Linked DNA regions of Homo sapiens: region 1 is linked to region 2. Evidence: fine-mapped expression QTL. Tissue or cell type: whole blood. Region 2 holds a variant in brackets; the other region holds the start of a gene. All regions are shown on one strand. Distances are from middle to middle.

Region 1 (5,145 bases), 64 kb after region 2:
CTGTACCATAAGGCATATAGAGCATGACCTGATCAGAGTGCTGATGTCCCATTCTATCATACTGATGAAGACACAGGTCATTACTAATGAAGCCTCTTAAACCTCACATCATGGTTAGCATCTGCACTCTCATAAACGTCTTAAGTCCCTTGAATCAGGCAAAATCTCTATAAATATTTAAGTTTTTTCTAAAAAAAGAGTGGCTGCCAAACCTCAAGCTAAGAAACTTTCAAATAAAGTTTTCTTTAAAACAAAAGTTAAAATGTTTTAAATTTTCATAGTAACACATTTTTTTTTTAAATTAGAAGGTCTTATAAAATACCGGAAAGACAATTTTTACTTTGGAAACCTCAAAAGCATAAATCAGCTTAAGATCTGGAAATAATTTTAGGTATTGATCGCAGTTCTATAAACTCAATGCTAGAGTCACTGGGGACAAACAGGGACATGAGAATCCTACTCGGAGTAAATTGCCACCTGAGGTGACAAAGCTGACTACGGTTTCCAATCTAGTTGTACACGGAGGGTCAGGAATGAAAGCAAGAAGACCCAAGGGCCCCTCTCCACCACTTTCCTTACCAGAGTTCAGATTCCCAAACTTTTGCTTCCCTTATATTATTTTCTTCAATGGACTCTAATTATGAAAGGAATACTTACAGGAAAGCAAGCTTACTAAATTTGGTTTTCCAAGTTCTTACTGATTACATATTAATCAAATTATTAAACCTTATACTTTATGTGAAATGGAGGTTAACTCATTAAACTGATAAAATTCCATCTAAGATCAAAGGAACTTGAATGCTGCTAAAGGTATATTTAGAATAAACTAAAGAAATCTTAGCCAAAAGAAAGTGTATGTATCTAATCTTTAGAGAGGCTTTCAAATGTTGCTTTAAGCTACTTTTATTAACAAAACTGCATTTTGAACTCCACTGCTTGACAACTATGGCCTTTGTTTCTTAAGTCAATTCTTACCTTTCTGGGGCCTTGGTTTAACTACTTCCTTTGTTTTAAGGACACAAAGCTTGTCAGTTCTCAAAATAAAAACCTGTCTCTCTGGTCAGATCATTAACTCCCTAGTCAAACTTTCAGACTACCGTCTGAACATCAAGTGCTAGCCTGAGCTTGTTTCCAGTCCCCCAACCCCAGGCTGTGGCTGGGGAAGGAAGAGGACAGCGAAAGCTTTCTCTGCTCCCTCGGGAGACAGGAAAGCCCTTTATTTATTCCTGCCCTTCCTCTTCTCCAACTGAAGAGTGTGATCTTGGTACAGAGCAGTTCCACACATGCCACACTGGTCTGATCTTTTAGAGTAAAAAATGGGATCTTCTCAGAGAAAATTTTTTTAAAAACTTCATGTGCTTAGGTCTCAGAGCAGAGAATTTTGTCTTATCATGACGCCACTCACTGGCAAACAAGCTGGCGTGCACAGGGACTTGTGAGGCTCTCAGCAGAGTCAGGGTAGCAGTTATTTCCCTTTGACTGCCTCAACTTCCTATGTTTGTGTTGACATGCCAGATCCTTATTTCTGCGGAATGAGAAATCTCTTGAGAATAAAGTTTTCCTAAACAGAACAAAAGTATCAAATCACTTTTGATGAGCAAACATTATTTTAAACTTTTTTTTAACTTACAAAAGATGAGGGGTAACATTTACTAGTTTTACAGAAATTTTCTTTAAACAGAACATTAGTGAACCAAATAACCAATTCTCCTCAAACATGATAGACAGGATGGAGGTTATCACTTTGATCATTTTAACCTCCAACATAGTAATTTGTAAACATCAGTCGCTGCACAAGTATTTTAATAACAGGCCAGCCCACGGGAGTAAACAGCACCTTAGCCTCGAGACCTGTTCTCTCAACTGTGTGTACAGATTTTCTAAGTCGTTATGAATTCAGATATTCCCTACATCTCAATAAAAACACCTAGGAGAACAAGAAATCAGGACATGCATCTCCTGTAAGCAGAAGAGAAACCGAGCACCTGCTCTCTTGCGGGGGGGCAGCTTCGTGTCACTTTCCAACTCAGCCTCCACAGGAGCATGGGCATATTGGTTCAAATGAAGTGTAAAGGACACATCTCTGTCCACAGTGTAAATCCTATTTCCTTAAGGTGGTCAACCGATTGAGACCAGTTCCACACTTCCTTAAAGAAGGAAAAACTCAGCAGCCAGCGCCAAGGCCCAGCGATCAGAGAGGACCCGTGCTCGCCGCGACCCCGCGCTCGCCCTGTGGCCCCGCGACCCCGGCGCCAGGTGTTGGGGGGACCGGCCCTTCCCTTCCGGGTGTGAGGGGCTGGCCCTTCTCTTCCAGGTTGGGGGGCTGGCAAACTCGAACCTCGCCGGCGCCCTAGCCAAGGCCTCCTCCCCGCGCCTGCCGCGGGTTCCACGCACATTCCAAGCGCGCGCATTCGACCCAAACTTCAGAGACGCTTCTGTGGAACGGAAGGATGGTCGCTGACACCTCGCCGTTCAAATATCAGGAAGTTAAAAATAACACGACCATCGTCATCATTCCAAACTTCGGAATAGCTTTTCTAAAAATGGAAAAGACGGTGGCTAAACTTCAATCAAAATCGCTGTGGTCAAGAAAGTCCTGGAAGCTGCTCTATCTTAACTTTGGGCGGTTTGCGGTTAACAGACGCGCGACCTAGAAACCCCAGAGGCATCGCCGGTTTTCCCGTCCTCCTCCTCCCACCACCGCCCAGCTCTTGAGAGGGGAGGGTGCTGCCGGACAGGTGGGTCCCCGGGTACTCACTGCTGCCCGCCCGGCCGCGGCGCCCCGTCCCGAGGCTGCCCAGGAAGAGGAAGGCGCGCTGCCCCGCCCCGCGGACAAGGAGGCCCCAGCGAGGGCGTACCTGCGGCAGGTGACGAAGGAGGCGGCGCAAAACACCCGCCGTGTACGTTTCGCGGGACAAAAACCACGCGCCCGCCGGGCCGCGCTCAGGCCTTCGCCCTCAGGGACTTCGGAACCGCCCCGTCCTCAAGATCGAAAAGCCCAGAGCCCCGCGGCGGCTCCAAGCACGGTGTTGGGGGTGGGGGTCTCAGGGAGCGCCCAGGCCCAAGGCCGCCCTGGTCCGGCGTGGACCCCGCGGGGCTCAAGGCAGGTTCCCCGCGTGACCCGCCCAGCCCCTCTATGCGAACTCGAACGACAGGCACCACAGCCCGCCACGTGCGCGAGACTCGCGCTGTGCCCCAACCCAGGTGGGCGGCCCGCGGAGCCGCGAGGCCTGAGCCCGCCCTGCAGGTGACCCGCGGCCCTTCCTCCTCCAGGTACCCCTCTCCTGCGGCCCCGTCCCCTATAGGTAACCTTTACCTCCCGCGGCTCCTTCCCCTCCAAGCGACCCGCAGCCCCGCCCCCTCCAGGTGACTCCCCCCCGCCAACCCCCGCCACCACACACACACACCCCCTCGCCTTCCGCGGCCCTACTCCCTCCAGGTGACCCCACCCCCGCAGCTCCTCCTCCTCCGGACAACCTGCAGCCCCGCCCCTGCAGGTGAACGGCGGCCCAGTCCCTGCAGGTGACCCGCGGACCCTCCCCGCCCGTCCTACTACCGTCATAGGACCGCCTCCGCAGGCGCACTGGAGCCGATTGCGCAGGCGTGGCTCTCACACGCGCTGCCCTGTTGGCGTTGGTGCGGGACTGCGCAGGCGCGCGGGGCAAGAGGGTGGCAGTGCGCCTGCGCCGCGTCGGCGTGCGGAACGCCGCGGTGTCTCGGCGCCTCTGCGCGCGGGAAGATGGCGGAACAGGCTACCAAGTCCGTGCTGTTTGTGTGTCTGGGTAAGAGGGCGCCGACTTACTCATGTTCTGACGTCCTCTGGAGAGTTGGATCGGGCTTGTGCGCTGTAGGTTGTGCCGCCGGCCTAGGAACCATGAGGGGGAGGAGGCCAGGGACTGGGAGGCCTAGGGTGTTCTAGGAGTGTGCCGCAGCGCCCCTGTTCCCCATCCGCCCCGTGCACCCGCCCAGCCTGCCCGCTAAACCTGGGTCCCCTCGCGCCTGCCATATATCCGGGGCTCTTGGCATCTGCAGCCACAGCCCCTACAAGCCAAGGTACTTTCTTTGCGACTACTAGAATCCCTCTCGTTCCCCTCCAATGGGCCCAGGTAGGCCTGGAGGTTGTCGGACTGATGTGGTCTCTTAGGGGCCTCCTGAGTCCTATGACAACATTGTTTTGTTTGCTAGTTTCCTTAGCCCATGCTTAGATAGGGATCTGAGTTAAAGGGAGATGAAGTTTTACGGTTTCGGGTTTCTTGATTGTAAAAGCCAAGCAAAGGAGACCTGGAGGTCCCTATATAACTTTGGCCCATGAAAAATGAAAGTGTATTTTATTAATGGCTTTTCAGGAACTTTCCAGCTTAAATTATTTTCACTCCTAGAATTTCAACACTTAGCTTGCCTTACTTCAAACATAATTTATTTTCCGTTTGGTCTTCAGGGATCTTCCTTTGGTGTAGCACTACAAGGTTATATTCCTCGGTGCCTCCACCCTGAGAGGAAGGCCTAAATTGTCAGTAGTCCGGTTACTTAAAACCTTCTGTGAGTTTGCATTTCCTGCAGTTTCTGTTTATTTTTACAGACTCCTCACTTTATCTCCTGTACCTTTTCCTGCTCACACCCTCGGGACACTGCCTTCCAGAACCTTTCGTTGTTCGGTAGCACTTCACATGCTTACTGAGCCTTCATCGCTGGGTGCCCATTATGCATTTTGCCTGGAAAGCCTTTTTATTTTATAAAGTCAAACCTAAATATTTCCTCCTTTGCTTTCCCAGATCATGAGTTGCTTCCTTATCGACATCTTTTATTACACAAATTTTACTATAATTTGTGTAATATAGTAAAAGATGTAATACAGAAAAGGTGTGATTCCTTATCGACATCTTTTATTACACAAATTTTACTATAATTATTTGATAGTCTGTTGAAATCCCAGCTGAGTTTAATTTTGTCGATGGCAATAACTGTGGCTTATTTTTCATTTTGTTTTCAGCTTTAGGACAATATATGATAAACGCTGACTAGGTTTTGTAGAAGTTAACTTCTGTGAAAGACGAATTAGAAGGCTTACCTTGTTTCACATTGGTAGTGGGCATCATTTGATTTTTAAGACTCATTGAAGGCTGAATGATGAAATCAATAAGTTTA
Region 2 (5,145 bases):
AGGATAAAGTGAGAGCAAATGAACATCCAGGTTATGTATTCTTACTCTATTAATTTCTACTTGAACTCATTTTTAATGTGTTTTTACTAATATTAAGAAAATAAGCCATGATATAAAGTGTTGGAAAGGAAAACCCTGACTGCACACCCCAGCCCCGTAACAGAACACAGAAACGCGCAGGGCCTTTTCCCTTCTGTCTGCCTTTCCGGCCTCTGGACACAGAAACGCGCGGGGCCTTTTCCCTTCTGTCTGCCTTTCCGGCCTCTTGACATGGAAACACGCGGAGCGTTTTCCCTTCTGTCTTCCTTTCCGGCCTGTTGACATGGAAACGCGCGGAGCCTTTTCCCTTCTGTCTGCCTTTCCGGCCTGTTGACGTGGAAACGCGCGGGGCCTTTTCCCTTCTGTCTGCCTTTCCGGCCTGTTGACGTGGAGACGCGCGGGGCCTTTTCCCTTCTGTCTGCCTTTCCGGCCTGTTGACGTGGAGACGCGCGGGGCCTTTTCCCTTCTGTCTGCCTTTCCGGCCTGTTGACGTGGAGACGCGCGGGGCGTTTTCCCTTCTGTCTGCCTTTCCGGCCTGTTGACGTGGAGACGCGCGGGGCCTTTTCCCTTCTGTCTGCCTTTCCGGCCTGTTGACGTGGAGACGCGCGGGGCCTTTTCCCTTCTGTCTGCCTTTCCGGCCTGTTGACGTGGAGACGCGCGGGGCCTTTTCCCTTCTGTCTGCCTTTCCGGCCTGTTGACGTGGAGACGCGCGGGGCCTTTTCCCTTCTGTCTGCCTTTCCGGCCTGTTGACGTGGAGACGCGCGGGGCCTTTTCCCTTCTGTCTGCCTTTCCGGCCTGTTGACGTGGAGACGCGCGGGGCGTTTTCCCTTCTGTCTGCCTTTCCGGCCTGTTGACGTGGAGACGCGCGGGGCGTTTTCCCTTCTGTCTGCCTTTCCGGCCTGTTGACGTGGAGACGCGCGGGGCCTTTTCCCTTCTGTCTGCCTTTCCGGCCTGTTGACGTGGAGACGCGCGGGGCCTTTTCCCTTCTGTCTGCCTTTCCGGCCTGTTGACGTGGAGACGCGCGGGGCCTTTTCCCTTCTGTCTGCCTTTCCGGCCTGTTGACGTGGAGACGCGCGGGGCCTTTTCCCTTCTGTCTGCCTTTCCGGCCTGTTGACGTGGAGACGCGCGGGGCCTTTTCCCTTCTGTCTGCCTTTCCGGCCTGTTGACGTGGAGACGCGCGGGGCCTTTTCCCTTCTGTCTGCCTTTCCGGCCTGTTGACACGGAGACGCGCGGGGCCTTTTCCCTTCTGTCTTCCTTTCCGGCCTCTTGACGTAGTCTACTTTTACTCAGCTCCTGTCATAGTGCTTGTAAGGTCGTGTATCCTAAATTTTCTCTAAATGATATATCATAAGCACTTTTCTATGTTGTCATTTAGTTGTAGTAATCAACATTTTAATGACTAAGTGATATTTCAGAGCATTTCAACATTCCTGAATAAAATGATAATATGGCCGTAAAAACAATGAGGTTGTACCACAATAGAAGAAATATAACTCTAGTCTTTAAGAAAGAAACGTTACTACCTGTGTGGCTAACAGTTGCTGGCTTTTCTCTATGTTTCTCATACTTTGGAATGAATTAGCTCTAGAATAAAGTCAGCATATTGTGTGTCTGAGTCCTGAACTTCTGGCTGGTGGACACAGATCTCTGTTGTATGCAGCCTTCTTGCTGGCCAAGTAGATCAGCACAGAGACACTGAGCTCACTCTGGCTTTCTCTGTTCTCCAGCCTGGCCCCCTGCATTCCCACAGCTTAAAGTTTATTTTAAGCTTTATTCTTTCCCACGTCCTTTGTTTTTTTTAGATAACGTTCATGTAATTATGAAAATAAATTCAGAGCAAGGCTGTCTTTCTGAGGGCAGGGGTGCGTTGCCGGCAGCCGAGGCCTGCTGGGGATAGTGTTCCTCGTCTGCCAGTGCTTGTTCTGTGGGAATAAAGCAACAGGATCATTTTAGAATAATTAGGGAAAAAATACAAAACACTGAGGGTGAATTAGCCCTGCCAATCTGGTGGTCGTTCCTGAGTTCAGCAAATTTGCATCCATATGTATCTGTGTCTTGTGACTGCATTGATTTGGTTTTCAACTTCTTTGCAAGAATACAAGCTACGGGGAGGCTGCCGCCTCAGTAGAGCCTGTGTTCACTGATGTGGCCCTGTGGTAACAGCGAGGACAGCAAGGTGACGGGTGCAGCTCCTGCCC[G/T]TCAGGCACTCACAGTCCTGAAGAAGACAGAGGAAGAAAAGCCCGTTGTCCAGCAAGCTTGTGAGGTGGCTGAAGCCTGTCTCCACTGTATCCAGGGCAGAAAAATACCGGCGAGACTTCAGCGGGGCTGAGGCCTAACTGAAACCAAGATGAGCTTTGGTTTTATTTCTTAGTATAATGTCACCTAGTGAGTTTCACCAAATATTGCATTTGCATAATGCATTTTTGTGCTACTTTTCTAGACCCCAGAAGTGACAAGAGGGCAGGAAACTTCTGGCTCACGCCAGCACGGTAACCACTGCTTCTGTCCGTCTCCTCGACAGTCCGCACACCACTGCACAAGGCAGCGGTTTATCTTTTTAATTCTCTGCTTCATTGGCATAGCCTTGACTGGCAAACAGTAGGTATTCAATAAATATGGTACTTATATTGATGGAATAGATTATTATATTATCATTTAACATAGTAGATTTTTGTATTAGACTTTTAATATACAGTGGTCTTAATATATACATAGGTGAAACAAAATGGGAATTAGAAGGCTTACCTAACTTCCATTTGTCAACGGCATTTATTCAATAAAAGTGTATTTTAGTGCTTACGACACACCAGTTAGCAGGCTCAGCTCTGAAGACACCGTGACACAGTTTTTGTCTTTTCAGGGAGTTGATTGCTATCTGGTGGGAGATACAGAGTGGAGGCAGGCATGGGAAATACAGTGCGTTAAAGGTAGGTTCAGATTGAGTGGAGCAGCTTTAAAGGACTAAGTGTCTGGCCAGTCTTCAATAAACATGAAACTGAAGTTAGAACCAAGAAGTATCCAAGAAATCACCTGGTACAGCAACTCCGGAACTAACAGCCTGTAGGACACTCAGTGGGCTCCTGGTTTCATATTCCATAATGCAAACATCTACTGAGGACCATGCTAGACAGCGGCAAAGGCCAAAAAAAGCACCAGGACTTGACTTCAGCTACGATCCAAGCAATCAGATGTGCTTTTACATGTCAATTGCATGCAAACCACCAGTGCAAGTTTGAAGTGTTACGTGACAAGAGTAGTAAGAATCGCCTTCAATGATGCATAGGGAGCATTCACTATGGGCCCAGCACCCCACAAGACCACCTCTATGCATTATCTTGTTTTATGCCATTAGACATTTGAGAAACCTGAAATTCAAAGACGGCAGCCACTCAGACAAGGTCAGGGAGCTGGTAGCAGCAGATCCAGGGTCCAGCCCCGACAGCCGAGCTCCAGCTCTGGCGTTTGACCACCCTGCGAATCCTATTATACCACTTGACCTAAAATTCATGTGCAAATATAGAAATTACTTCACGCTCAGGACTTGGAGGATTATTATCAAAGGCCCCTGCGGGTAGGTGATTGGGAGTCATGGCTGGGAAGAGCTGAACTCCTCATGTTCTCATGGCTGATCCGAGAGCCCTGGGTTTGGAAGCAGAACACCCACCTGTTTAGAGCTGTGATTCTGTCACTTCCTAGGGGTGTGATGGTGGGAATTAACCAAGTTTCTTCACCAGTAATATTTGCACAATAACACCGTCCTCATTCTGCTGTCTATAGTATTTAAAACTCCTATATTAAATAACCCTTCCAATACTGCTGCAAATTAAAAACCTGGACCAAGGGGACCCCAACTAACTACTGCAGCCACCCCTGCTGGGGGCAAGCCAGAGCCCACTAAAACAGGACATTTGGCTACATTTACAGGGCGGTTTAAATGATTTGAAGCAACAGATGTGTATATTGACTTGGAAGGTTTTGCAGGAAACTGTGTTTCAGTACTTAAATAGCATACTGTAAGGGCTGACCTTGATCCAAGGGGTCACAAATGTCACCTCGTTGGGAGGTGTCTTTTCCAGGATCTACGTTATAATTATGATCTCCTTGGAAGCACCAGGGGAGAAATTCCAGATGGTTTTGCAAGGATAAAGTGAGAGCAAATGAACATCCAGGTTATGTATGGATGTTCATGGAGGATTAAGTGAGAGAATGGTGTGGAAAGTACCAGGTAAACCAGGAGGCCTGAAGCACACGTGTAATATGTTTATTATTTGACTTAAATGAAAGCATGGATATTTTTAAAGGTTAAAGAAAAAGGTTCACCATTTTAAACTCATGTAAAATCATTATATAAAATTATTATTGCTTTTAACTGAGTTCTTGAATCATTTCTTCTTAATTCAAACAAGTCATTATTCTGTGACCAGTAGGAGTTTTTGAGATCAGTCTGTTTGCTACTAAATTTGTCTGCACTTGGGACTTCACTCAAGAGGAATGCCAGCTTTCTTGTGTGGAACCAGAGGCAGTCGGGGCCTGAGCCAGCAGCACTACCTGATCGAGGAACAGGTGCACTGAGAAAACAGAGAAGCCACTCAAGACTGTTAACTTTTTGTTTGAAAGCTGCATCAAAGTCTGGGTAGCCTTCCCAGAAATACTATTCAGTACATGAGCACAGCAGCCTGGGACCTGCAGGGCTCCGCAGGTGACCCTGGCTAACTCCACTGGAAGGGCCCCGCCTCCAGCAACATCTTCCTCAGTTTCCACCTTCTGTCCTTTGCTGATTTAGTCCCACAAGAACTTGAGTCTGAAGACAGCTTTGTTTTCACTGCTGTGATAACAAAAACACAATTATGAAATAATGTAAACGCTCATGCAAAAACACACAGAAAAGCCAAACACAACAGTGGCCCAGCCAAGCTCTGCGAGCTTAGTCCTGTGTGCTGTGAATGCCCTGGGCCCCTCTGGATGCCAAGTGCCATGGACTCAGGCCTTAAAGGAATTTTCAAGCAACACTTTAAATATACGCATTTCAAAAAGTGACTTATACACAAAATTCAAGTGCGATGGTGTACTTTTTGTTATTTTTACTAACTAGAATATAGGGCTCGT

Evidence for each region. PIP is the estimated chance that this variant, and not a neighbour inherited with it, causes the effect.
Region 1: it holds the start of SH3YL1, and the variant in region 2 is fine-mapped to the expression of SH3YL1 in whole blood (INTERVAL, PIP 0.98).

Annotation. Positions count from the first base shown.
Region 1 is chr2:261,226-266,370 of GRCh38, forward strand. It overlaps SH3YL1 (SH3 and SYLF domain containing 1), which reads right to left and starts at 2,807. Exons shown (of 10, transcript NM_015677.4): 1 at 2,759-2,807. The coding sequence starts at 2,759. ACP1 (acid phosphatase 1) reads left to right here and starts at 3,722. Exons shown (of 6, transcript NM_004300.4): 1 at 3,722-3,782. The coding sequence starts at 3,740. RefSeq lists silencers at 2,703-3,282, 3,353-3,432 and an enhancer at 3,783-3,832.
Region 2 is chr2:197,265-202,409 of GRCh38, forward strand. No RefSeq gene overlaps it. Among named protein-coding and RNA genes, the nearest start is that of SH3YL1, 64 kb to the right of the region's middle. RefSeq lists an enhancer at 338-1,537. The variant G/T (reference allele first, on the strand shown) is at 2,238.